Homo sapiens: one gene and its partners. The protein of the gene in region 4 interacts with the protein of the main gene of each other region in a pairwise test. Each region holds a gene or a part of one and is shown on either strand. Other genes may lie near its edges. The genes, in order: C22orf39, METTL21A, NOXA1 and ZNF620.

Region 1 (7,329 bases), on a different chromosome or scaffold from region 4:
TTTTCTCAGGAAGCTCCTAGGAGGTGTTCCTCACTAAAATGAAGGAATAAGGTAGAAATAAGAAAGTCATAGAATCCAGGAAATAAGGAGCCCCCACTAACATGTACGGCACCTAGAGAAAGGCCAGTCCAGGTACGGCAGGGCGAAGGCCCAGGAGACACAGGTTTGTCAAAACAGATGAACTCCATGCAATGCAGGCTGTGATTGAATAGAGGAAGAAGCCAAACACAGCTATTGACACCAGGATGAATGGAAGGCTGTGCGGCAAAGGAAGACTAAATGCAGCTGTGACTCAAATTTACATGAATGTGACCACATAAATACTAAACAGTGCTCTATTGCAGGTATAACATGCTACAGTTAGTGGGGAGCCAGGTGCAGGGATGTGTGTTGAACATTCCAGAATCCTCTTCTTCCTAGGGAAAAGTTGAGATAATGCCTCAGACTGACTAGCAATAAAAGCATGTGAAAAAAAATATGTGCAGTTTTCAAAGGTTTGGGAAAAAACAATCCCTCTTTCTGCTGATGGAAGGATAGCTTAGTGGAATGTTTCTGAGGGCTGGTTGGTCTCTATATGTTAAAAGCATTAAAAGTGTGTACACACTTTGACCCAGGAATTTGAGCTCTAAAAAAAATCAGAGTTGTGTGCAAATACATTAAGCTGCTTACCACAACAATGTCCACTGGTAGAAAACTGGCCCTCCTACATCATGGAATTCTTTTTTACAGAATTCAGTTCTGTAGCCTTGGGAGTATACTAGACAGGAAGTTTATTGGCATGAGATTTCAGAATTAAGTGGGAAAACAATTCTTTAAGCATGTACAGAAAAGTGACCTGAAATGTTTTTGGGTGATGAACTTACAGACTTTTTTTTTTTTTTTTTTTTTTGAGGCAGGGTCTTGCTCTGTTGCTCTGCCATCCAGGCTGGAGCAGTGGCACAATCATAGCTCACTATGGCCCTGGCTCAAACCATCCTCCCGTCTCAGCCTCCCAAGTAGCTGGGATCATAGGCACATACCACACTGAGCTATTTTTGGTAGAGATGGGATCTCACTATGTTGCCCAGGCTGGTCTTGAACTCCTGGGCTCAAGTGATCCTCCCACCTAGGCCTCCTAAAGTGCTGGGATTACAGGTGTCAGCTATCGTGTCCAGCCTGAGATATTTCTTATGAGTAATGTGGATGGTACGTGAGTCCATAGAGTAAGGCATTTATTGTAAACCTCCAGGGAGTTTCTGAAAATAGTATCTTCTCTTCAAACCTAGGATGAAGCTGGAGGCAGATTCGTCGCTTTCTCTGGAGAAGGACAGTCATTGCGTAAAAAGGGAAGAAAGCCCTAAGTGAGGACTGTTGGCTGATTGGAAAATAATAAAAGAATCATTTGCAACATCTTGGCTTTTAGTTACTGGCACTGACAGGGACGAGCCTCATCAGAGAATACTCTGTTACTTAAGATTTATTTAGAGTTACCTAAGAATTATTAAGTTTGACTTGGAAGTGGAGCAGCAGGACTTTGTAGTTGTATGCTTGATTTGGGGAAAGACAAAGAGCTGTCCCTGAGGGCCTGTAGATAGCTGCCTCCTCACCTCTTCACGCTTTCAGCTTGAGGGGAGCTCCCACTGCCTCAGCAGGAGCAATTCTGCATCCCTAATTCTGTCAAAACCTATGAAGGTGACTAAATTGTCTAACATGAAGTGTTCTTTCTTTTTCTTCATTTATCCTTTCTTTTCCTACATCAATTGCATAGGTGTCAGTCTTTGGCCTAAAAAAAGGCTTTAAATAGACATGTGTTCTATAAGTAGTGGCTGTCCCACTACTGTGGCTGCAATTTAAGTATTTGACAAAGAATGTTTCTATTTTTATTTTACATATTTTTTTCAAAAACACCACTCAGAAGAACCTGATCTGAATGAGTTTGCACTTTTATTCTCATTTCATATGGACATAACTGGCTCCTTAGTGAACCTGTTCATAGTGAAACAACTCCATGGAGAAGCAAACATGTGAATGTTAGAATGAACAAATGCTAAAGAGATGTTCCTCTCCTTCTTCCCTACTCCCCAACTCCCAATTTTAATTTATTAAATCATCCAAGCTTCTGCTGGCCTGTATTTTTTATCAGTATTTATTTGGTCTTAGATCTTCACTTTCTATAACGTGAGATCTTTTGACATGCTAATCTGATTATTTTAAATTTGTTCCCATGAGCCACTGTGCCTGGCCCCATTGGGAATAATTCTAAGCCAAGAATTTCAAGTAAAAACAGGCAATAACTAAAGCCTAAATCTAAATGTTTGATTAGGTACTAACACAGACTGGTGGTTGGGCCTCTGACCATAACTGAAGGCCTGTTGGCAGGTGCTCCGTGTTCCATCTCACCATTAGAAAAGTGTCCCTCTGGGGCTTCTCCTGGAGAAAGTAGGAAGAAACAAGGCTGCCTGATCCCTAGGTGGCAATGGCTAAGCCCAGCAGGGTCCCCCATGAGCCAGGGCTAACCCTGCTTCCAGACATGGGGGTCCTGCCCTGGTCAGGGCCCCTCCAACACTCCAGAGAGGAGAGAATGGTGGCCCCAGGGTCTATCCACGTCTTCAGTGAAGAGTGTCTATGAGTGTCATGATGTTCAGTACTTGGCCTGTGGCACAAACCATCATCACTGGAAATGGGCGTGGTTTTGGAAGGCATGAGCACTGTGGGGACTTACCTGAGCCTCCACTGACAAAGTCTCAGTTTTACTAGCAGAGGGAGAAACCCTTGGTGGGTAGACAGCCTTCATTTGCAGGATCACATCAGCTAACAGACTGTCACTTTATGCATAATGAAGAATGTTACAGTACCTCTGGCTCTGGGTTTTTGTCTTCACTAAGCAACACCTGCTGTGTATGCAGTGAAACGCCTGGTCCTTTGCTGGAGGCACACTCCCCTGCCTGGACCAGGATGGATTCCATTGCAGAGCCTTTTAATGACACAGTGGGGCCAGTTGGAGCACTGATCCTGGTCATTACTCCTGCACCCTGGCCTGCAGCCTTCCTCTCAGTGTCTTATTTGGGCTTGGTCCTTGAGCCGGCTGCCTCAACAGCAGGACCCCTGGTAAAACTGCAGCTTTCTGATCCACCTCCAGGGAGTCTGTCCCAGTGTCATTCCTGGGACTGGCCCAGCAGTCCCAGGATTTGTATCAGTGGATACTGAGGATTTGTTATCAGTGAAGTGGGAGAACCGCAGCATAGGTACTGCAGGGCGTTTCTGCAAGCCCACCAGCCTCCTCTTTACTTGCCTTTGTTGCCTCTTGTGCATTGCTCCTTTTTATAAACGTCCCAGCCAGGCACTGGCGCTCCGCCTATAATCCTAGCACTTTGGGAGGCCAAAGTGAGAGGGTCGCTTGAGGCCAAACTAGCCTGGGTAACTTAGCAAGACCCCATCTTTACAAAAAAAAAAAAAAAAAATTAAAAATTAGCCTGGTGAGGCTGTGCATGCTTTTGGTCCCAGCTGTTCGGAGTCCAGGAGTTTGAGGTTGCAGTAAGCCATGAACACGCCACGCCACTGCACTAAGCCTGGGTGACACAGCAAGACCCTGTCTCGAAAAATGAATAAGGTAAATGTTACATGTCTCCCGCACCCTTAGAATAGAACTACAGACATCCAAGCCACTCCTACCCCGCTCACCCCTGCTACACACCGCCTCCATACCTTTGACCGGCCTATGGCTGTACTCGGATTGCATTCTCAGCCTCCACTTCAAGCCTGCGTTCCCTGGGGAGGTCATTCAACCCTAGATCCACCATATGTCATGCCCAACCAATCTCAGTTACTTTGCGAGTTCACCTCCATCCTGAGTGGACGCTCAAGCAAGACTGCTGGAGCTGCAGATCTGGGAGGTTCGCTGCACCACCTTGATGCTCAGTATGTACTTTTGAAAATATACCGGATTGTTGAGATTTGAGAAAATCTCATAAAGCTGCTGAAAAGAACTGGCCAGAGCCGTGTGATTTGAGAGGCGGCTGACGTAAGGTAGCTGCGCGGCCCAGGATGCCCGCCTGGCCCGGGGTGAATGGCGCTGTCGTCGCGGTGGTCGCGTAGGCTTCGCGCCAGGTCTCGCCCCGGATTTACCCTGCGACCCCGGCCCTCCGCGCGCGCCGCAGCCGCCCTCGGTTGCTATTGGTTGCTCGTCCTGTTTGTCGGCGCTTCTCGAAGAAGGGGGCGAAGACGTGATTGAATGTGTCGGTGCTCATTAGTTCTTCTGTCAGTCGATCACGAGGTGCCGTTTTCTTCATTTTTCATTGGCTGGCGGACTGAGGGGCGGGCTTGGCGCGCCGGTCGCCCAGACATGGCGGACGGCAGCGGCTGGCAGGTGAGTGTGCTGGGTCGGAGCCGGGAACCACCGGGGTCTTCCGGAGGGAGGGAACGGGACTGGCTCGGGGCGTAGGGCGCGGCCGCCGGGCCCCGCTCAGGCGCCGCCTCTCGCCGCAGCCGCCGCGCCCCTGCGAGGCCTACCGCGCCGAGTGGAAGCTCTGCCGCAGCGCCAGGCACTTCCTACACCACTACTACGTCCACGGCGAGCGGCCGGCCTGCGAACAGTGGCAGCGCGACCTGGCCAGCTGCCGCGACTGGGAGGAGCGCCGGAACGCCGAGGCCCAGGTGCGCCGGGAGGGAGCGGGGCGGCGCTTCGGAGCGCCTTGCGGGGCCCAGCTTTCCCCACCCCTCCACGCCCCATGCCCCGCGACCTAGCCGGGGACTGACGGGGTCCCTATCCTCCTCACGCTTCCTTTCTTTTGAGAGATTGTGTAAATTAGCATATCAACAGGACTTTCAGAGGGCGTGAAAGACAAAGGAGGAGACCAGCGAGGAGGGGGTGTAGAGTGGTTTAGAGAGGGAAGAGGGCAGCCGTCCGGTGTTAGGGTCATCAGCTGGCCTACGCAGGAGGTGATGTTGCTGAGTCCTGAGTGACCAGGAGCCAGCCTTCATCCAGCCCCGGTAGACACCGCTGAGAAACAGATAAGGCCTGGGTTCCTGAAGCAGAGGGTAGGTGGATGGTTGGAGAGCGGTATACCAGGGACCTGGCGGGCCTTTTGATACGGAGTTTAGAGTTTAGTCTAAAGTGTGCTGGGAGGCATAATTCGATTTATATCTTTAAAAGATCAGTCTGTTAGCAAAGTGTGGTGGCGTGCACCTGTGGTCCCAGCTACTTGGGAGGGTGAGGCGGGAGGATCGCCTAAGCCCAGGAGTTCAAAGCTGCAGTGAGCTATGGTCACACCACTGCACACCAGCCTGGATAACAGAGGGAGACCTGTCTCAGGGGGGAAAAAAAAGAGAGAGGGTAAAAGAAGTTCAATCTGTTTGCTAGGGTGTAGAGAATATATTACAGGAGCAGAGAGACCGGTAAGGAGGTGGTTCTAGTTGTTTTTTCGTCCAGCAAATATGTACCACATTGGGTGCTCTTGGGGATGCACGAGTGATAAGAAGAGTCTCTGCCCTCCTGGCACCCACACTGTAGTGTAGAATACAGTGCTACGGTGGACCCCTTGTGGGAGAGGAGATGGAGAGAAGCCAGCCGAAAGGTGCGAGGCTCATGGGGAGTGCCAAGGAATGAGAATCAATGGGACTGATCAACACTTCAACATTATTAAGTGTATACAGTGATCTGAAAGAGATGAACTGATGTGGAAACCAGACTGCTGTATAAAAGAAAATGATGACTATTCCATAATATGTGAAAGTCAAAAAAAGTAAGAAAGCTGACAGCTTATATAGCAAGAGATTGATAACTTTAATGTATATATATGTGCGTGTGTGTGTATAAAGAGCTGTTATATATATATCAATAAGAAATATAGGGATTATTTCAGAATGGAAAAATGGCCAAAGGACACAAAGAAGCAATTCATTAAAAAAGAAAGCCAGCTGGGCATGGTGGTGGGCACCTGTAATCTCGGCACTTTGGGAGGCCGAGGCAAGGGGATCGCTTGAGCCCAGGAGCTTGAGACCAGCCATGGGCAACATGGTGAGACTCCATCTTTATAAAAATAATAAAAAAGGAGAAAAGCCTGGGCATGGTGGCTCATGCCTGTAATCCTAGCACTTTGGGAGGCCGAGGTGGGCAGATCACCTGAGGTCAGGAGTTTGAGACCAGCCTGGCAACATGGCGAAACCCCATCTCTACTAAAAATACGAAAATTAGCCACGCATGGTGGCAAACACCTGTAATCTCAGCTACTCGGGAGGCTGAGATAGGAGAATTGTTTGAACCTGGGAGGCGGAGGTTGCAATGAGCCGAGATCGTGTCACTGCACTCCAGCCTGGGCAACAGAGTAAGACTCCCTCTCAAGAAAAAAAAAGAAAAAATCAAATGGCCAGGTGTCAGGTATATAAGTCTAAATGACAGTAACAGCAGAAAGTGGTGTTGATAGAGGTTTGAAGAATTCTGGGTAGTTGTGCAGTGTTGGTGGGGGTGTCAGGTGTTCTGATTATGTAAATGTCAGATACATACCTTTTGACCTTAAGTTTTACTTCTGGAACTTTATCCCAGGGAAGTAATTGGATAACAGTGTACAGTTAAAAGTTAGAATGCTAATTATGTTTTTGATACTGCAAAAGCTGAAAACAACCTAAATTTCACTAATAGACATTTGACCAAATAGCTTTTTCCACAAAGTGAAATACCAGATAGCCTTTGAAAAGAATGGTCGGTCATCTCCCTGGGTATGGAAAAGTGCCTACAGTGTATTGTTTAGTGAAAAGAAAGCAGGAAGTAGACTAGCCAGCAAAAGATTATCCTATCTTTAGGGAAACATGTTAGCTCTAAAATGTGGACCAAAAAAAGATATCAGGGAAGCTGTTAACTGCCGCATTGGGAATGGACATTTGGGAATCTTTAATATTCTGTACTACATTTCTGATAGCTTTTTAAACACGATCAAAATATTTTATTTGAGGCAATAGAGCTTGAACAAAGACAGACATGTAGACAGATTAAGTTATCTGTGTAAAGAGGCTCACATAGCACCTGATACCTACCAAGGGCTGACAGCAAAGGTCACCCATGTTGTGATACACTGACTTGTGTCTGTATTGGGAGACAGTAGCCAAGAGAAGCTGATGGGTTAAGTGGCACTTGTGGCACCACTCAGGCGGGTGGTCTGTCCTCTGGACTCTTCCCACCCTTCCAGGATACCCAGGACATGTATTTCTTCCCCGTCTTCCTCCCTTCTCCCTAACACACTCCTCCCTGCAGCTCCCCACAGCTGCTCTCTCAGACTCTTCTCTCCTCTCCACCCAGCACCCCCAGGCTCACTCTCAGCAGGTGAATATGCCCCAGACTCACGAGGTCAACCAGAG
Region 2 (3,191 bases), on a different chromosome or scaffold from region 4:
AGCTGGGATTACAGGCGCCTGACACCACGCCCGGCTAATTTTTGTATTTTTAGTAGAGATGGGGTTTCACCATGTTGGCCAGGCTGGTCTTGAACTCCTGACCTCAGGTGATCTGCCCGCCTCGGCCTCCCAAAGTGGTGGGATTACAGGCATGAGCCACCGCATCCGGCCAGATTTCAGGTGCTTTTAAAAAGTAACTGAAATTTTATTTTTACTTAATTCCTTTATTTATATATATATATATACCTGAAATTAAGGCAAAAAGCATGATATGAGACCCAAAAAAGCTCATATCCTACTCAACTAAAAGTGTTTAGGACCTAAACAGGGCAAAAGATTTAAATAGCACTAACAGCTCAAGGAATGTATAGGTTAAACCTTTTGTTTTACATCCAGAAAATTAGAAAACTCAGCTAAACATTGTATATATCACAAGGTTTTAAAAATAATTTGTAAGATTTAATCTTACCAAGAAAGCTTACTCATTTAAAGACTTCTTTATACCGGCCCTTCATATCATCAGTGGAAACTGTTTATTAAAAGGGAGGAGTATGGGATACACAAATAGCATAAATCGAAATCTCACACTTAATCCTTTAATGTTAATTGCATTTCAGACTGAGTAAAGTCTGACTAAAAATCACAGCAATGGGACAAAGCACTGCTTTGTTTTAAAACTGCACATGTGCTTTCTCCCCTGAGAACCTTTGGCTTAGACTTTTTGTACAGTAAGACATTTCATTAAATATGGTTAGATTTGCAGTCTAAGACCTTAAGTGACACACTCAATGACAACATTCTTATAAATTATAGCCAATTATAAGTCCTCCTTCTGGTTTCTCTTCTGTGCTTCGTAAATATGTACATCTTTTTCAGGATCGTAGTGAACCTTTCTCACAGTAAATTGCCTCTCCAGCATTGCTAAGAAGTTGTTATCCCGTTCATAGCGAATTCGGCATGCTAAAAGAATCACAGAGTGATTGCTACAGAGATGTTCCAGTGTCTGAAGAAGATCTGTGAATGTTTCTTCTAAATATATGATATCAGCACCAAGTATCAGGTCAAATTCTCCAGGAGAAAAACTCCCCAAATTTTGTCCCCAAGTCAGCTCCTTAACAACAGTTTTAGTTTGGATATGAGGAGGTAAGTTGGCTTGAACGTTTGATTTAAGAAATTCTAATGCTACTTTTCGATCCGTGATAGTCACATGAGCACCTACAATGTGGAACAAAGAAAAAGTGATGTGTACATCAGTACAATTCTGTTAGGTAGAGAGGGGGTCAAGTTAAATGTAGAGTGTCTCTTAAATATTGCATCTGATATGCATAATATCAATCACACCTTTCATGGACAGCTGCAATAGAAAAATGACTCACAGCTCCTTTTGCATTAACTACTGGTAGAAGTGACTCTTGATTTGCCTCTATGACATACCTGCTATTTGCTAAAATTGTGCCTATAAATTGCAGAATTGGCTGGGTGTGGTGGCTCATGCCTTTAATCCCAGCACTTTGGGAGGCCAAAGCGGGTGGATCACCTGAGGTCAGGAGTTGGAGACCAGCCTGGCCAACATGGCCAACTAAAAATACAAAATTAGCCAGGCATGGTGGCGGGCACCTGTAATCCCAGCTACTCGGGAGGCTGAGGCAGGGGAATCACTTAAACCTGGGAGGCAGAGGTTGCAGTGAGCTGAGATCTCGCCACTGCACTCCAGCCTGGGTGACAAGAGCAAAACTCCATCTCAAAAAAAAGTAGAATTAACCAGTGACACGGCTGATGCTTCTGAATTCTGCCAACAGAGCTGGCCCATACTTTATTCATTGGGTCATTATCTTTAAGTCAGTTGGCCGCAGGCTAAAATGGAATCCAAGAATGAAATATCTGGGAGCAGGCCAGGTACAGTGGCTCATGCCTGTAATCCCAGCACTTAGGGAGGCTGAGGTGGGAGAAGCCCTTGAGCCCAGGAGTTCAAGACCAGCCTGGGTAACACAGGGAGACTCCATCTCTACAAATAATTTTTTTTAATTAAGCACAGTGCACACCTGTGGTCTTAACTACTCAGGAGGCGGAGGTGGGATATCATGTGAGTATGGGAGATCGAGGCTGCAGTGAACTGTTATTGTGCCTGGGCAACAGAGCAACACCCAGTCTCAAAAAAAAAAAAAATATCTGGGAGCAGACTATTATTGCAAAGATGACAAGATACCAAAAACAGAGAAAGGCTGTTTTGTAAGGTTACAGTTTAAAAAAGAATCATGGAAGAAATAAATTGGCTACTAAGAAATCCCAGTCCACTTCTCCTTAGGCTGTTATGAAGCAGCCAACTTACATGTTTTACGTATTTCTTGAAAAATTGTAAGCTTAAAAATTACTTAATTTTATTAATGTAGGTTAAAATGCTTGTTCTTAATGCTAAGTTTCTACACACAGTGTAGAAAAACTAAACTGTTTCTTATGGGTTGTTGACAAAAAGATCCTTTTTTTTGAACCAATGTGGGTAAGAGAAGACCTTAAGGTGGAGCAAGCACATAAGGTCAGGTCGGATCCACCTCATCTACGTTGTAGGAAAGATATAATATGTGTAGTACTCTTTACTTCTGACCCCAGAAATTCTGAAATTTAAAATTATGTTTCAATCTTTCATAAAATTCTTTCCATTTGCATCCTTCTTCAGTTTGTAATCTTCATAGGTAATCTTCCCACAGGATTCCAGACTAGTTGCAATAAGCACTATTTCAGTGGCAGCTGATACTCAGTGTTTCTTATCTTGACACATAAGTTAGGGCAGTAATTCAATTTGACATTTACAGTCCTACTATGAGATACTGATGAAAATGCTCAAGTTGTTAGATTTTACAAGCCTGAACCTACCACTTTGACCATTCGTTGCTAGACAGTGTGTTGCCCAATGGATAGATTTCAATGACAGTTTTCATCTTTTCTGAAAATAAAAATTGCAGACAGCCAGGCCGAGTAGCTCAACCTGTAATCCAAGCACTTTGGGAGGTCGAGGCAGGAGCATCACTTGAGCCCAGAAGTTCAAGACCAGCCCTGACAACATAGAGAGATCCCATCTCCACAAAAAAATAAAAAAATTAGCCAGGCGTGGTGGCACTATTCAGGAGGCTGAGGTGGGAGGATCACTGGAGCCCAGGAGGTCAAGGCTGCACTTAAAAGAACAACTTTAGGCC
Region 3 (7,035 bases), on a different chromosome or scaffold from region 4:
CTGCAGAGTCCACTCCTGCACCTCCTCCTCCTCCCTCTCCATCCACTCCCTCCTCTTGCCCACCCCCTCCTCCATGGTTCCTGGCTCCAGGGAAACCTGAGACTGTGGCCCTCGCCTCTGCTGAGCGCCACCCTTGGACACAGGTCGTGGGGTCCTCACTGCTTACCTGGGCTCTCTGCACCATGTCCCTTCCTAAAGGAGGAATGAGGGAAAGGAGACCATCGGGACTGCAGACCAGGCCATGCCTCGGCCTCTCTGCTAGACACTCACAGGCCCCATCCCAGGAGGGCAGGCTCTGTGGGGAAGTGGATCACAGTCCCGAGAGCCTCGCAATCCTGAAATATCAAAACCCCTCAAATCTAAAATCCCAAAAAATATAATTCTAGAAAAAATAAAATTCTGTAAAAGATATTTATTTACTTTTTAAAAATTGTTTTGAGAAGGAGCCTTGCTCTGTCATCCAGGCTGGAGTGCAATTGTGCGATCTCGGCTCACTGCAACCTCCGCCTCCTGGGTTCAAGCGATTCTCCTGCCTTAGCCTCCCGGGTAGCTGGGATTACAGGCATGTGCCACCACGCCTGGCTAATTTTTGTATTTTTAGTAGAGACTGGGCATCACCATGTTGGCCAGGCTGGTCTCGAACTCCTGACCTCAGGTGATCCACCCGCCTCGGCCTCCCAAAGTGCTGGGATTACAGGAATGAGCCACCTCGCCCAGCCTATTTACATATTTTAAAGGGATTTATTTGAGAAACATAAAAACACGACGGAACCCTTCATTGGCCGATAAAATAGACAAAAATAACATACATATTTTTTCAAGCACAAATTCATGCACGCTAGCGACAGGCTCACGGGTGTGAGAACTACGAGCAGATGAACAGTGCTCATGAGGAGCTAGGTCAGAAGGGGTAAGACGTAGGTGCGTAGACTCTGGCTGGTGACTGTGTGCACCTGGCTTTATAACTGGTCATCAAAACACCAAGATGAACAACCCACCTTCTAACAAGATCCATCAAAGGCTTCAGGGACCACCACATACGCAGTCGCCCAGAGAGCCCGGATCTGGAGATATTTTACCTTTCAGAAAGGCAGATGAACGAAAAAGCCATCTCTTCCTTTACTGAAGAGTCCCAGCATTCGGGATTATGGCTGTGGGACTGTCCCTTTCTGGATTACGATCCAGACCCCTCTGGGGCAGCCTCTCCTTCACATCGGCGCGGGAAGCCCGCCTGGAGGAGAGGCCTCTCCGGCAGGCGCTGGGGAGCTCCCAGCAAGGCTTGGAAGGAGGCTCAGAGTTTGGAGGGGGAGCCCCCATGGGGTGGGGGGCCTGAGAAGCAGGAGGGAAATAACCAGGGCTCTCTGCACGGTTCAGAAGAGAGGCTTGGGGGCGGGCAGGGGCCCAGGAAGCTGAGTCTGAGCTGGGAAAATGGTGGAGCCCCAGCACACAGTGACCCCCACACCCACTCAGCACACATGTGCATGGACCCCTGGCCCACCAGACCTGAGTGTGCAGACCTAGGCACCGCACTGCCCTCCCTCAGGTCTCCTTGGAACCAGGTGTTGGGGGCGGCTCGAGCGGGGCTGGTGTGAAAGCTGCCTAACCACAGCCCCATCTCCGCCCTGTGCTGCTGAGGGGACCCCGGCTGCCCACAGGTTCCAGGAGGCTCTGTCTGACTTCTGGCTGGCCCTGGAGCAGCTGAGGGGCCACGCTGCCATCGACTACACGCAGCTGGGCCTGCGGTTCAAGCTGCAAGCCTGGGAGGTGAGGCCGGGCAGGGCTCACTGTGCTGCTGGCTGTGGGGTGTCCACGGGCGGTGGCACTGTCACAGGAGGGCCCTGTGGACTGGGGAGCGCCTCTGGCCGAAGCTCTTGGTGCCATGGAATACCCTGGCCACTCCTTGACCCGCAGGAGGTTCTGGTGGCAGTGGAGGTGGAGGGACCATTTTGTGCCATTTCAGGCCACCAGGGGTGGCTCCACCCAGAAGGAGGGCAGAGGCGAAAGGCTGCTGGGTGGGCAGGGAGCAGGCAGGGGGTTGTGCCCACCCTCCACTGTGCCCCCAGCCCTTTCCTGGCTGCCTGGAACGTGTTGGCACCGAAGGAGGGGTGCTGAGAGGCCCCCCCACCAGACCCCGGAAATGCATCGCCCTGAAGCCTTCTGGGAATAGCATTGTCTTTTAGGACAAAAAGATGGAAGGGAAAGCCCACTGGTGTGGGTCTGGAGTCAGGGTTAAAGCCAGGTGGGGGCCCGCCAGCCCAGGACACAGAACGGTGCAGGGGAGGGGCCGGGTGGGGGGATTGGGAGAGGAGCTGGGTGGGGAGACGGGGGAGAAGCCAGGTGGGGGGACTGGGGGAGAGGCTGGGTGGGGGGATGGGGGAGGGGCCAGGTGGGGGGACTGGGGGAGGGGCTGGGTGGGCAGACCGAGGGAGGAGCTGGGTGGGGGAACCGGGAGAGGGCCTGGGTGGGGCATCAGGCCCCTGCCATCACCTTGGCCCCACTCCCAGGTGCTACACAATGTGGCGTCGGCACAGTGCCAGCTGGGGCTCTGGACAGAGGCGGCCAGCAGCCTAAGGGAGGCCATGTCCAAGTGGCCGGAGGGGTCCCTGAATGGCCTGGACTCAGCCCTGGACCAAGTGCAGGTGAGGAGTGCCAGCCCGGTCATGGTTTTGGGCTGGTGCCTACCAAAGCTCCTCAAGACCAATTTCATGAGATGAAGAAGCTTCCGGAGGGAGATGGCCCTAGTGCCCAGTTTCGGGTGCCAGGCGGGGGCTTCCTGTGACCTGCGGGAAGGGGGTGGGGGGCCCAAGCGGCCCCTTCTGCTCCAAGGCACAGGGGCTCTGCGGCTGCAGGCCTGGTTGGTCACCCCGTCTGCATCTGCTGGATACCCACCCCCTCCAGAGACGGGGCTCACTGCCGCCACGGCAGGTCCCCAGGGGCGAGGTCTTCCGGCCCCACCGGTGGCACCTGAAGCACTTGGAGCCCGTGGATTTCCTGGGCAAGGCCAAGGTAAAGGTGGGGACGGCGTCCTGGGGCATGGCGGCTGGTGCTGAGCCCTCGAACTGTGTTCCCAGGGATGGGGGGAGGTGCAGTCCAGGCCACCGTAAGGGCCAGGAGGGTAGAGAGTGGGCCCACAGCCATCCTCAAACTGGCGCCCACGGTAGGGGGGCGGTGCCCCAAATGGGGCTGTGAGCTTGAAGGCAGAGCCCACTAGAGCCGGCTGCATAGGAGGGGGCTCCAGCTCTCTCAACAAGGACCCTGCAGGTGCCACCCCGCCCCCAGACTGGGCCATGGCCACAGCCACAGCCTTGCAGCCTCCCAGAGTCCCTGCGTCTCTCTGCGTCCTTTCATGCCTTTGTGTCTCCCTGTGTCCCTGCCACAGACAGCGAGGTCCCGGGGGGGTCCCTGCGTCCCTGCCACAGATAGCGAGGTCCCGGGGGGGTCCCTGCGTCCCTGCCACAGATAGCGAGGTCCCGGGGGGGGGGGGTCCCTGCGTCCCTGCCACAGATAGCGAGGTCCTGGGGGGATGCCTGTGTGCCTGCCACAGATAGCGAGGTCCCCGGGGGGGTGCCTGTGTCCCTGCCACAGACAGCGAGGTCCCAGGGGGGTGCCTGTGTCCCTGCCACAGGTAGCGAGGTCCCGGGGGGGGTGCCTGTGTCTCTGCCACAGCTAGCGAGGTCCCGGGGGGCGGGGGTGCCTGTGTCCCTGCCACAGATAGCGAGGTCCCGGGGGGTCTCCCTGTGTCCCTGCCACAGATAGCGAGGTCCCTGGGGGGGTCCCTGTGTCCCTGCCACAGATAGCAAGGTCTCACGGGGGCAGGGGCTGCAGTCCGACGGTCTGGGCCACGTCACGCCCACACTTGGGTCAGAGCCAGGCAACACCCCTAAAGTCACAGGAATGGGGAGCTGCTCACCCCCAAAGGCAGCGGGCGAAACATGGCGGAGAAGAAGAACTCCTGGTGGGCAAAGACTGGGTCACCCTTGGCTGGCCACGCCCCGGACTGGCCACGCCCCATTGGCTGGCCACGCCCCCTCGGTCACCTGCGCTGCGCCACGGCCGACTCCTGGGCCCAGTGCAGCTGCCCAGCAGGGGAGGCCTGGGGTGGGCGAAGCCGGGCTCTGAGCTGTGTTAATGCATTAACTTAGAGTCCGCATATCACAGTAGAGTGCTGTTTATAAGAAACCAAAATGTTTTTAAAGTTGTGCTAAAAATAAGTTAACATTGCAGCAGATGTTTTTCTCCATCAGACATTTCCCTCCATGGTGGTCTGGCAGACGTGGGCCGGGCATGGGCAGCTGTCACCCAGCCCCCGGGGACTTAGAGCTGCGGGGCACGGTGGGGCGGGCTGCAGGGAGCAGACCCTGCTGGGCCGCTGATCCCTGACCCAGCGTCCCCACTGTCCCCGCCAGGTGGTGGCCTCTGCCATCCCCGACGACCAGGGCTGGGGCGTCCGCCCTCAGCAGCCACAGGTGGGTTTGCGGCCCCTCAGACCCCTGCCTGGCCTCACCCAGCTTTCTGGGAAAGAAAATGCTGCACAAGCTCTGAGCCCTCCTGGGGCTGCGAAGTTCCTCTGATGGGAGGTGTGGGGTGGCCATCCCATCCCTGTGTAAGACCTGGGGAAACCACTCTTCAAGGTTCAGGAGGAGGGAGGGCGGCCCCCGACCCTTAACCAGAGCGAGGTTGTTGCTTTGTGTCCACAGGGACCAGGAGCGAACCATGATGCCAGGTAGGAGGGGCTGACTGGGCCCTGCGAGCGCGTGCCTTTCCTGCTGGGCAGAGGCCCTCCACATGGGGCCACGCGGGCCGGGCACAGGAGGGCAGTCAGATGGGCAGGGCCTGAGAGCCTCCCTCCTCTCCCTAGGTCCCTAATCATGGACTCCCCAAGAGCTGGCACCCACCAGGGCCCCCTCGATGCAGAGACAGAGGTCGGTGCTGACCGCTGCACGTCGACTGCCTACCAGGAGCAGGTGCGTGGGCCTGGGCCTCTTCCCCTGCTGGGGGTCGGTGCTTCTGCTGCCTCCGCAGACTGGGGACCACAATGGGACCAACATGAGGGTGGAGGGAGCAGCTCGCTGGGGGGTAGACGGGGCCGGGCTCACCCGTGGTCCTGGCCCAGCCCAGCCAGATGGGAGGATGCCTGGCTGTGCCCGAGGCGAGTGGGCATTGGCCATCAGGACAGGAGAGAGGTGGTGTCCAGTGGAGACATCCACGTAGCCCTGCAGGCCCTCAGCCCCCAGGACCACCTCAGTTTGGCCATTGCCCCTCCCCTCCCACTGGGGTGCGAGTGACCAGGAGTGACCCAGCTGGGGACAGGCGGGAGGCAGGACAGCTCTGGAGGGGCCCCAAGGCTCCCGCCCCCCATGGGGGCCCAGCAGCGACTCCATCCCCCGAGTCCTCCCGGACACCCCGGCACCTGGGGAGAGGCGGAGGAAGGCAGGAACCCCAGCTGCTCCCAGGGTGGCAGCCGTGGGCGGAGGCTCTGCTGCAGGATCCGGGAGGCCCAGAGAAGGCACCTGCATTTCACGCTGAGCGCATCTGAGGATGCGATCAGGAAGCAGCCCCGGCACTCTCTCTTTATGGATGCCCACTTCCAGTTTAACCGTGGCATCCCGGGGGCAAGGGCGCCCTCCAAGCTGTGCTTCACTAATTCCCTCAGGGTTTGGAACTATTTGCCCAGTTCCCACGATGGGCCTTTAAGCTCTCGTCCTTCCTAACCTAAGGCAACTTCAACCATCTGATAAATCTAATAATAAGTTACAATCGAGGCCGGGCACAGTGGTCTGTAATCCCAGCACCGTGGGAGGCTGAGGTGGAAGGATTGCTTGAGCCTGGGAGGTGGAGGCTGCAGTGAGCCATGACAGTGCCACTCCACTCCGGCCTGGGCAAGACAGCAAGACCCTGTCTCAAAAAAAAAAAAAAAAAAAGCCAGGCGAAGTGGCTCACGCCTGTAATCCCAGCACTTTGGGAGGCCTAGGCAGGCGGATCACAAGATCAGGAGATCGAGACCATCCCGGCTAACATGGTGAAACCCTGTCTCTACTAAAAAATACAAAAAATTAGCTGGGCATGGCGGCGGGCACCTGTAGTCCCAGCTACTCAGGAGGCAGAGCCAGGAGAATGGCGTGAACCCAGGAGGCGGAGCTTATAGTGAGCCAAGATGGCGCCACTGCACTCCAGCCTGGGCGACAGAGCGAGACTCCCTCTCAAAAAACAACAGCAATGCCTGACCCTCAGGGTCTAGCCAGCGCTGGGCTGTGACTTTGTGACTTGCAGCTGGTGAACTGGTCTCCTGCTCAGTGCCCAACTCAGGGCACACGGTTAATGTCGAGCCCACACAGAGGCCGGGGCCCAGGGACTGGGTCCTCAGCTTCCTGGGGTCACTGGGGAGCCCACCCACCTGGAGCTGCCACCTCGGTGGGCCTTGGGGGACGGGGCGCTCCCTCCTGGTGACAGGCAGCCTCTAGGTCTGCAGGGACCCAGCCCCATCCTAAGGCAGCCGACTTGTGGCCAGTGCCCTGAATTCAACACCCACAGACCACCTGCTGGGTGCTGGCCGGGCACACAGGCCACACCCTTGGTGTGGGCTCTGCGAGGACAGTACCGGCCTCCAGCACCTGACCGCCCCAGCCCACCCAGCCTGTGCTTCTCTTGCAGAGGCCCCAGGTGGAGCAAGTTGGCAAACAGGCTCCTCTCTCCCCAGGTATGGGCGTCCTCAGCGGCGGGGTCCCCGGGTGAAGGAGGAAGCTGCTGGTGCATGGGTGCCGGCTGCCCTCCACCCACAGGGCCCACTTTGGTGGTAGTGGCTGTGTCAGTCTTGCTCTGTCCTACAGGGCTGCCGGCAATGGGGGGGCCTGGCCCCGGCCCCTGTGAGGACCCCGCGGGTGCTGGGGTAAGAGGCTCTAGACCCTTCACCTGTCAGTCACCTGAGGGAGGCTGAGGCCAAGCCCCATCCCTCAGAATCAAGGCTTGCAAGCCCCCCTCACCTGCCCAGTCTCTGTCCACACCCCTCGGGCTGAAGACGGCCCTGACCAGGCCCTG
Region 4 (7,117 bases):
AAGCAAATAAGAACCTACTATCTGCTTAAGATAGTACATTGCTTGAAGAACCTTCAAGAAATGTACGTTAAATATAAAGACAGGGATAAATTAAAAGCAAAAGAATAGAAAAAGACATACCATGACAACATTAGCCAAAGAAAACTGTAAGGCCAGGCATGGTGGCTCATGCCTGTAATCCCAGCACTTTGGGAGGTGGAGGCGGGAGGATGGCTTGCATCTAGGAGTTTGAGAAGAGCCTAGGCAACCTTGTCTCTAGGAAAAAGAAGAGAGCCAAGCACAGTGGTCTGTACCTGTAGTCTCAACTTAGTCTCAACTCCTTGGGAGGATCACTTAGGCCTGGGAGGTGGAGGCTGCAGTGAGCTGTGATTGCACCACTGCACTCAGCCTGGGAGACAGAGTAAGATTGTCTCTAAGGAAAAAAGAAAAAAAAAAAAGCTGCAGTGGCTAAATTCATATAAGACAATGTAGATAGGTAGACAGTCCATATTCTGGGCCATAAAAGAAAGCTCAATAAAATCAAAATGATTCAAGTCATACAAAGTATGTTTTCTGACTGTAATGCAATTAAATTTGATATCACAGAAAGACTCCTGGAAAATCCCCAAATATTTGTAAAGTCAGTAACACACTTCCATAAGAGAATGTACAAAGTATTTTGAACTGAATGAAAATGAAAACACCATGTACTAGAATTTGCGGGATAATGCTAAAGCGGTACTTGGGAGGAAATGTATAGCACTAAATGCCTATTTTACAAAACAAAAAAAAAAGAAAGATCTCAAATCTGTGACTTCAGCTTCCCCCTTAAAACTAAAAAAAGAATAGCAAATTTAACACAAAATAAATATAAAAAAGACATTAAAGATCAAAGTGAAAACTAATGACATAAAACAGAAAAGTAATGAAACCAGAAGCTAGTTCTTAAAGAAAAATTAATAAAATTCATAAACCTCTAGCCAGTGACCAGAAAAAAAGAGAGAATACACAAATCATTAATATTAGTAATAAAAGAAGTGACATCACTGCAGGTAATAAAAGATAAGCACATATTATGAACAACTTTATGTGAATAATTTCTACAACTTAGATAAAATGGATAAGTTCCTTGAAAGGCACAAGTTACCAAAACTCATTTAAGCTGGGCGTAGTGATGCATGCCTGTAGTCCCAGGTACCTGGGAGGCTGAGCGGGGAGGATTGCTTGAGCCCAATTTGAGGTCAGCCTGGGCAACATAGAGAAAACCGTTGTCAAAAAATAAAAATAAATAAATAAAAAGAGATAACCAGAGTAGCCCCTGTATCTACCAAAGGACTCAAAACTGTACTTAAAAACCTTATCAGAAAGAAAACCCCATGCCTAGATAGCTTCACTGTTGAATTCTACCAAACATTTAAGGAAGAAATGCAGTCAACTCTACATAAATTCTTCCAAAATATTAAAGAGGAGGGAATATTTCTCATTCTATGGAACAAAGACATCACAAGAAAAGAAAACTGCAAATCAATACCTCATAAACATAGATACAGAAATTCTAAATAAAATTTTAACAAATTAAATTCAATATATAGTACTAATAAAATAATAATACACCATGACGAAGTCGGTTTTATCCCACCGCAGAGTTGGTTTAATATTTGAAAGAAAAATCATGTAATTCACCACATTAACAAAGAGAGGCTGGGCACGGTGGCTCACGCCTGTAATCCCAGCACTTTGGGAAGCCAAGGTGGGGGAATCACGAGGTCAAGGGATCGAGACCATCCTGGCCAACATGGTGAAACCTGGTCTCTACTAAAAATACAAAAATTAGCTGGGTGTGGTGGCGCGTGCTTGTAGTCCCAGCTACTCGGGAGGCTGAGGCAGGAGAATCGCTTGAACCCCAGAGGTGGAGGGTGCAGTGAACCAGGATCGCGCCACTGCACTCCAGCCTGTCGATAGAGCAAGACTCCATCTCAAAAAAAAAAAAAAAAAAAAACCATATGGTCATCTAAATAGACACAGAAAAAGCAATTGTCAAAATCCAACATCCATTCCTATAAAAACTCTCACCAAAGTAGTACTAGAAGAGAATGCCTGATAAAGGACATTTACAAAACAAAACAAAACAAAAAAGCAAGAAACCTACAGTGAACATCAGTCTTCAGTGTGAAAGATTGAATGCTTTCACTTTAAAAGCATAAATAAGACAAAGATATCTGCTCTCACCACTTCTGTTCAATATTGAAATAATGCTTCTAGCCAGTGCAGTAAGGCAAGACAAAATAAAATAAAAGGCATCCAGACTGGAAAGAAAGGAGTAAAACTATCTTTACTCATAGATGACCTATGTAGAAAATACAATGGAATCTACAAAACAGTTACTAGAATTGCTATACTGAAGAAGTAAGTACTTCTCCAAGCCTGCGGACTAGGGTGAAAGGGGTCTTTATTGGATGTAATAATGCAGATTTCCACATTTCATAATTTTTATTTTTAAGCTGGCTTCAAATGCCAAATCCCAACCAATCCCCCCACACTCACTAGTTTTCTAGTCTTAATTTGGGCATTCTCACCTCTCCATCCCTCTCATAGTGACAGATGCACAATGGAAGCCACTGGCCTACACAACTCAAGATCTGAATGCAGAGGTGACACCTGCTCTCTCTTGACATCTAAAGGGTGGGAGGGAGGGAGAGGATGCTCACTCACCTGGCGCCAAGCGGTCTGGAACATGGCTGGCGTCCCAGCTTCACACACTGCCTCAGGGTTCGGAGAAGTGAAACTGAAGAGAAAATAAAGAAGCACCGGTGAGATTGATGCTGCCTCGCACCCCGCAAATGCCCTCTGTGCTACTTGGGCCCCTCTCCTTTCCGCCAACTCCTCACCCCAAAAAGCAAAGGGGTTGCAAAACCAGGCAGAACAAGCCCCAGGAAAACCAATCAGTTACCCGGACCGCGAACCTCTTCAGCTCGGACCGCGAATCCCGCGCGGCGCAGGCGCAGATAAAGCGTGGAAATTCCACCTGCCGCCGACACCGGGGAAAGCTTGAGACCCTCCGCCGGAAGTGCGTTTTCCATGCCCCTCCTCTCTAGGAACCTGGGAAGTTGCCAGTCTCTGTGGTTTCCTACCCCCGCCGTCAGCGCCAGTGTCCCTACTGCCTGAGACAACACGGGCCCGAGCGGGCGGCCCCAGGCAGGGGTCCTGCAGCGCCCACACCTGGTAGCTCCTTCGGGGCATGACGTCTGGCCAGCTCAGGCCACAGAATGGTTACTATCCTGGGTATTATTCGTGGTTATCTGGCATTTGCCACTCTGGGTGTCCTTCCAGATAATGAAGGGACCATCGCGCCCTTCACATGCGCCAAAACTGTCTGGATTGTGTGGGTGCGCTGCAGTGGGAAAAGTGGGTGTGGGGAAAGGCGAACCCATTACTCAGAAGGCCGAATGTGTATGGACTACGTAGGTCCAGAAACCCAGCTGCACCACTTGCTAGTTGTGTGACCTGCAGCAAGTTTCTTTGCCCCGGTTTCCTTGTCTATTAAATGGGTATTATGATGGTGGTACCAACCTCTTGAGGCTGTTCAGGGTTAATTCATTAAATTAGTTAATTGATAGGTAAATTATTTACAGTTGTGCCTGGCACATAGTATGTACTCGTGAGTTTGTATTGTTTTGTTTTCCAATTGTGTTTTTTGAAGACACAAAATAGGTGCTGCTGGGACTCCAATATGTGGCGTGCTTTAGGGAAATAGATTTTTTTAAGGACAATTTTCGAAGTTTAGCGAAAGAGCTATTAACATTTGGCTTAGAGCCCTTTCCTGCCCTGTACTGGGATGTGTGTCCCGGCCCAGCCTGGAAACAGATTTTAGTTATTCCTTCCACAGGAATTAGATTTATCCACCACTTTCAAAACAAGTCCTGCCATGGAGAGTATATTATGTATCTACTGCTGGATAATAAACTACTCTAATGCTTTGTGGCTAAAAACAATAAACATTGTTATCTTTTGACAGTTTCTGTGGACCCAGAATTCAAGAGCAGCTTGGCTGGGTGGTACTGGCTGAGGGTCTCTGCTGAGGTTGCAGTCAGGTGTCATGTGGGGCTGAAGTCATCTGAAGCTTGACTGAGTTTGGAGGATCCACCTCCAAGGTGGTTTACTCACATGGCTGTCAAGTGGGTGCTGGTTGTTGGCAGGAAGCGTCAGTTCCTTCCCATGTGAGGGTTTTCACAACATGGCATGTAGCTTTCTCCCAAAGTGAGCAATCCAAGAGGCCAAGGCCAAAGCTTTTATGACCTAGTTTTGGAAATCATGCATCATGATTTCCTCAATACATTCTCCTCAGATTAGTCATGATTCAGTGTGGGAAGAGATACACAAGGTTTGAATGCCAGGATATGAGAACCATTGGGAGCCATTGTGGGGCCACCTAGCACAGAGATTTTAACTGTCACAGAAACAGTTCATTTTATAAAATCTATAGTATTTTCACTTTAAAGTTTATGCACAGCACTTGTTTTAAATAATTAGATTTCCAGAAACAATGGCATGACAAGGACATACATGTGCATACTGTCCCTTCGCTAAACCTATTAAAATGAACATTTACCATGAGTGGGTGCACATAAACGTACATACATATACACCACAAATTCTAAACAGTATTAGCCAGTGGAAAAAAACATGATAAATTGGACTTAATCAAAGTTAAATCTTCTGCTTTTCAGAAGATACTTTTAGAGAATGAAAAGACAAGCCACAGACTGGGAGAAAATACCAAAAATATTTGATAAAAGACTTGTTTCCAAAATATATAAAGGACTCTCAAAACTCACTCATAAGAAAATAAACCAATTTTTAAAAATAGGCAAAAGATTTGAACAGATACTTCACCAAAGAAGATATATGGAAAGCAATTAAATATTTGAAAAGATGCTCAACATTGTTAGTCATTAGAGAAATGCAAATTAAAACCGCAGTGAAACAGTATTACACACTTACTAGAAAAGCTAAAAGTAGAGACAACATCAAGTGTAGGCAAAGATGTATCAGAAGTGGAACCCATACAATACTGATGGAAATGTACAATGGCACAGTCTCTTTGGAAAAACTTTGCAGATTCTTTAAAAATTAAATATACACCTACCTTATTATCTAGCCATTTCACTCTTGTTATTTACCCAAGAGAAATGAAAACATATGTCCTTACATTACAAAGACTTGCATACAAATTTTCATAACAGCTTAATTTATAATAGCCAAAAACTGGAAACAATTCAAATGGCCATCATTTGAGTTAAGTTGTGGCATATCCATACAGTGGAATACTACTCAGTAATAACAAGGAATGAACTACTGATATATATGCAACAACATGGGTGAATCTCAAAATAATTCTGTGTTGTGAAAGACATCACACCAAAAAAAATAATAACTTTAAAAAGAGTACATACTGTGTGATAGCATTTATATAAAATTCTAGAAAAGGAAAACTATAGTAAAAGAAAACAGATTGGTGGTTTCTTGGGGCTGGAGGCAGGAGAGGAGCAGGCTGGAATGGAGAGATTATAAAAGGGCATAAGGAAACTTTTTGGGGTATGATTATGTTTGTTATCTTGATTGTGTTATTTTTTGAGAGACATATACATATGGCAAAACTTATCAAATCATACACTTTATGCATGGCTTATTGTATGTCAGTGATACCTCAATTTAAAAAATATATACATACTAGAAAGACAACATAATCTTAAAATGGGTTGTGTCCTTAAATCTAACCCTAGTTCTAATCCTGATAGGACAAACTTGAAGGAAAAAGCCATTCATCAGGGAGGAGAATCTGCAGGCTGAAAATGCTCTCTAAATTCTAGGAAATTTTAATGGGGAAAAACCAGCAACAAGACATATCCTAGTGAAATTACGAAAATTTAAGATTTAAAGTTCTGCAAATTTCCAGACTGAAAAGGAAGCAAAATCAGGCTGCCTCAGACTTCTTCTTGGCAATATTAGATGCCAAGACACACACATGGAGCAGGGTCTGGAGTAATGCTTCTCAAACCTTAGTGTGTCCACGAAGTCACCTGGTAGCATTGTCAAAGAGTAGAGTTTGATTCAGTGAGCTTGTAGTTCTGATAAATCTCCCAGGTGATGCCAATGCTGCTGGTCTTCAGGTGACAATTTGAGTAGCAAAGGTCTACAGAAGTGGTTATTTGGCTGGGCGCGGTGGCTAACACCTGTAATCCCAGCACTCTGGGAGGCTGAGGCAGGCAGATCACCTGAGGTCAGGAGTTTGAGACCAGCCTAGCCAATATGGTGAAACCCTGTCTCTACTAAAAATACAAAAAAAATTTAGCTGGGCATGGTGGCACATGCCTGTGATCCCAGCTACTCAGGAGGGTAAGGCAGGAGAATTGCTTGAACCTGGGAGGTGGAGGTTGCAGTGAGCCAAGATCGCGCCACTGCACTCCAGCCTGGGTGACAGAGCAAGACTCCATCTCAAAAAAAAAAAAAAAAAAAAAAAAAAAGTGGTTCTTTGTAGCATCACCTTATAATTACCTAGGGAATTAAAAAAAAAATACTGATACCTGGGACCTGCTCCCAGAGATTCTGAAATAATTGGTCTAGGATTCAGCCTAGGCATTGGTATTAAAAAACAAAAACAAAAACACAACATCCCAAGTGGTTCTAATGGGCAGTTGGGTTAAGAGCCTCTGGCATGGAGTGTTGAGGGAAATGAACTTAGTCTAGGAAGTATATGCTCAACATGGTACGGTCTTTGTAGAGTATCTATCAGCATACAACAGCCCCTTTAACTGCCCTCCTCACCAACAGCAGTGAGTCCCAGATAGCTGTGTAAATACTGTGTAATTCTGCTCCCCCACCCATAGTTGAATTAATCAAGAATGAATATATGATCTGAGTGGGGCCAGACCACACTCTTTCCCTGTAATTAGGAGGTGAGATAACGAACAGTCATTCCTTAGCAGGGTCTAACTGTGGACAGCCCTACTCTTGAACAAGTGCCTTTTTTTTTCTTTTTGAGACAGAGTCTTGCTCTGTCACCCAGGGTGGAGTGCAGTGGTGCGATCTTGGCTCACTGCAACCTCCACCTTTGGGATCAAGTGATTCTCCTGCCTCA

The links.
Region 1: the proteins of ZNF620 (region 4) and C22orf39 interact in binary tests that used the Homo sapiens proteins (3 or more experiments, as listed by UniProt).
Region 2: the proteins of ZNF620 (region 4) and METTL21A interact in binary tests that used the Homo sapiens proteins (3 or more experiments, as listed by UniProt).
Region 3: the proteins of ZNF620 (region 4) and NOXA1 interact in binary tests that used the Homo sapiens proteins (3 or more experiments, as listed by UniProt).

The regions. Positions count from the first base shown.
Region 1 is NC_000022.11:19,444,681-19,452,009, reverse strand, and holds the start of C22orf39 (synaptic plasticity regulator PANTS), read left to right. Parts: upstream 1-4,298; 5' UTR 4,299-4,321; coding exon 4,322-4,345; exon of another isoform or gene 4,346-4,464; coding exon 4,465-4,632; intron 4,633-7,329. Other genes in the region: UFD1 (ubiquitin recognition factor in ER-associated degradation protein 1), read left to right, coding at 1,266-1,340. UniProt on the Homo sapiens protein: Negatively regulates long-term potentiation and modulates adult synaptic plasticity. Stabilizes the interaction of RTN4 isoform A/Nogo-A with its receptors, inhibiting clustering of postsynaptic AMPA receptors at synaptic sites.
Region 2 is NC_000002.12:207,612,229-207,615,419, forward strand, and holds the end of METTL21A (protein N-lysine methyltransferase METTL21A), read right to left. Parts: intron 1,216-3,191; coding exon 818-1,215; 3' UTR 511-817; downstream 1-510. UniProt on the Homo sapiens protein: Protein-lysine methyltransferase that selectively trimethylates residues in heat shock protein 70 (HSP70) family members. Contributes to the in vivo trimethylation of Lys residues in HSPA1 and HSPA8.
Region 3 is NC_000009.12:137,426,378-137,433,412, forward strand, and holds part of NOXA1 (NADPH oxidase activator 1), read left to right. Parts: exon of another isoform or gene 1-1,655; coding exon 1,656-1,764; intron 1,765-2,063; exon of another isoform or gene 2,064-2,239; intron 2,240-2,504; coding exon 2,505-2,639; intron 2,640-2,898; coding exon 2,899-3,006; intron 3,007-4,244; coding exon of another isoform or gene 4,245-4,373; exon of another isoform or gene 4,374-4,398; intron 4,399-4,406; coding exon 4,407-4,466; intron 4,467-4,697; coding exon 4,698-4,723; intron 4,724-4,858; coding exon 4,859-4,964; intron 4,965-6,651; coding exon 6,652-6,697; intron 6,698-6,827; coding exon 6,828-6,886; intron 6,887-7,035.
Region 4 is NC_000003.12:40,501,951-40,509,067, reverse strand, and holds the start of ZNF620 (zinc finger protein 620), read right to left. Parts: upstream 3,030-7,117; 5' UTR 2,930-3,029; exon of another isoform or gene 2,868-2,929; intron 2,765-2,867; 5' UTR 2,716-2,764; coding exon 2,692-2,715; intron 328-2,691; exon of another isoform or gene 294-327; intron 256-293; coding exon of another isoform or gene 121-255; intron 1-120. UniProt on the Homo sapiens protein: May be involved in transcriptional regulation.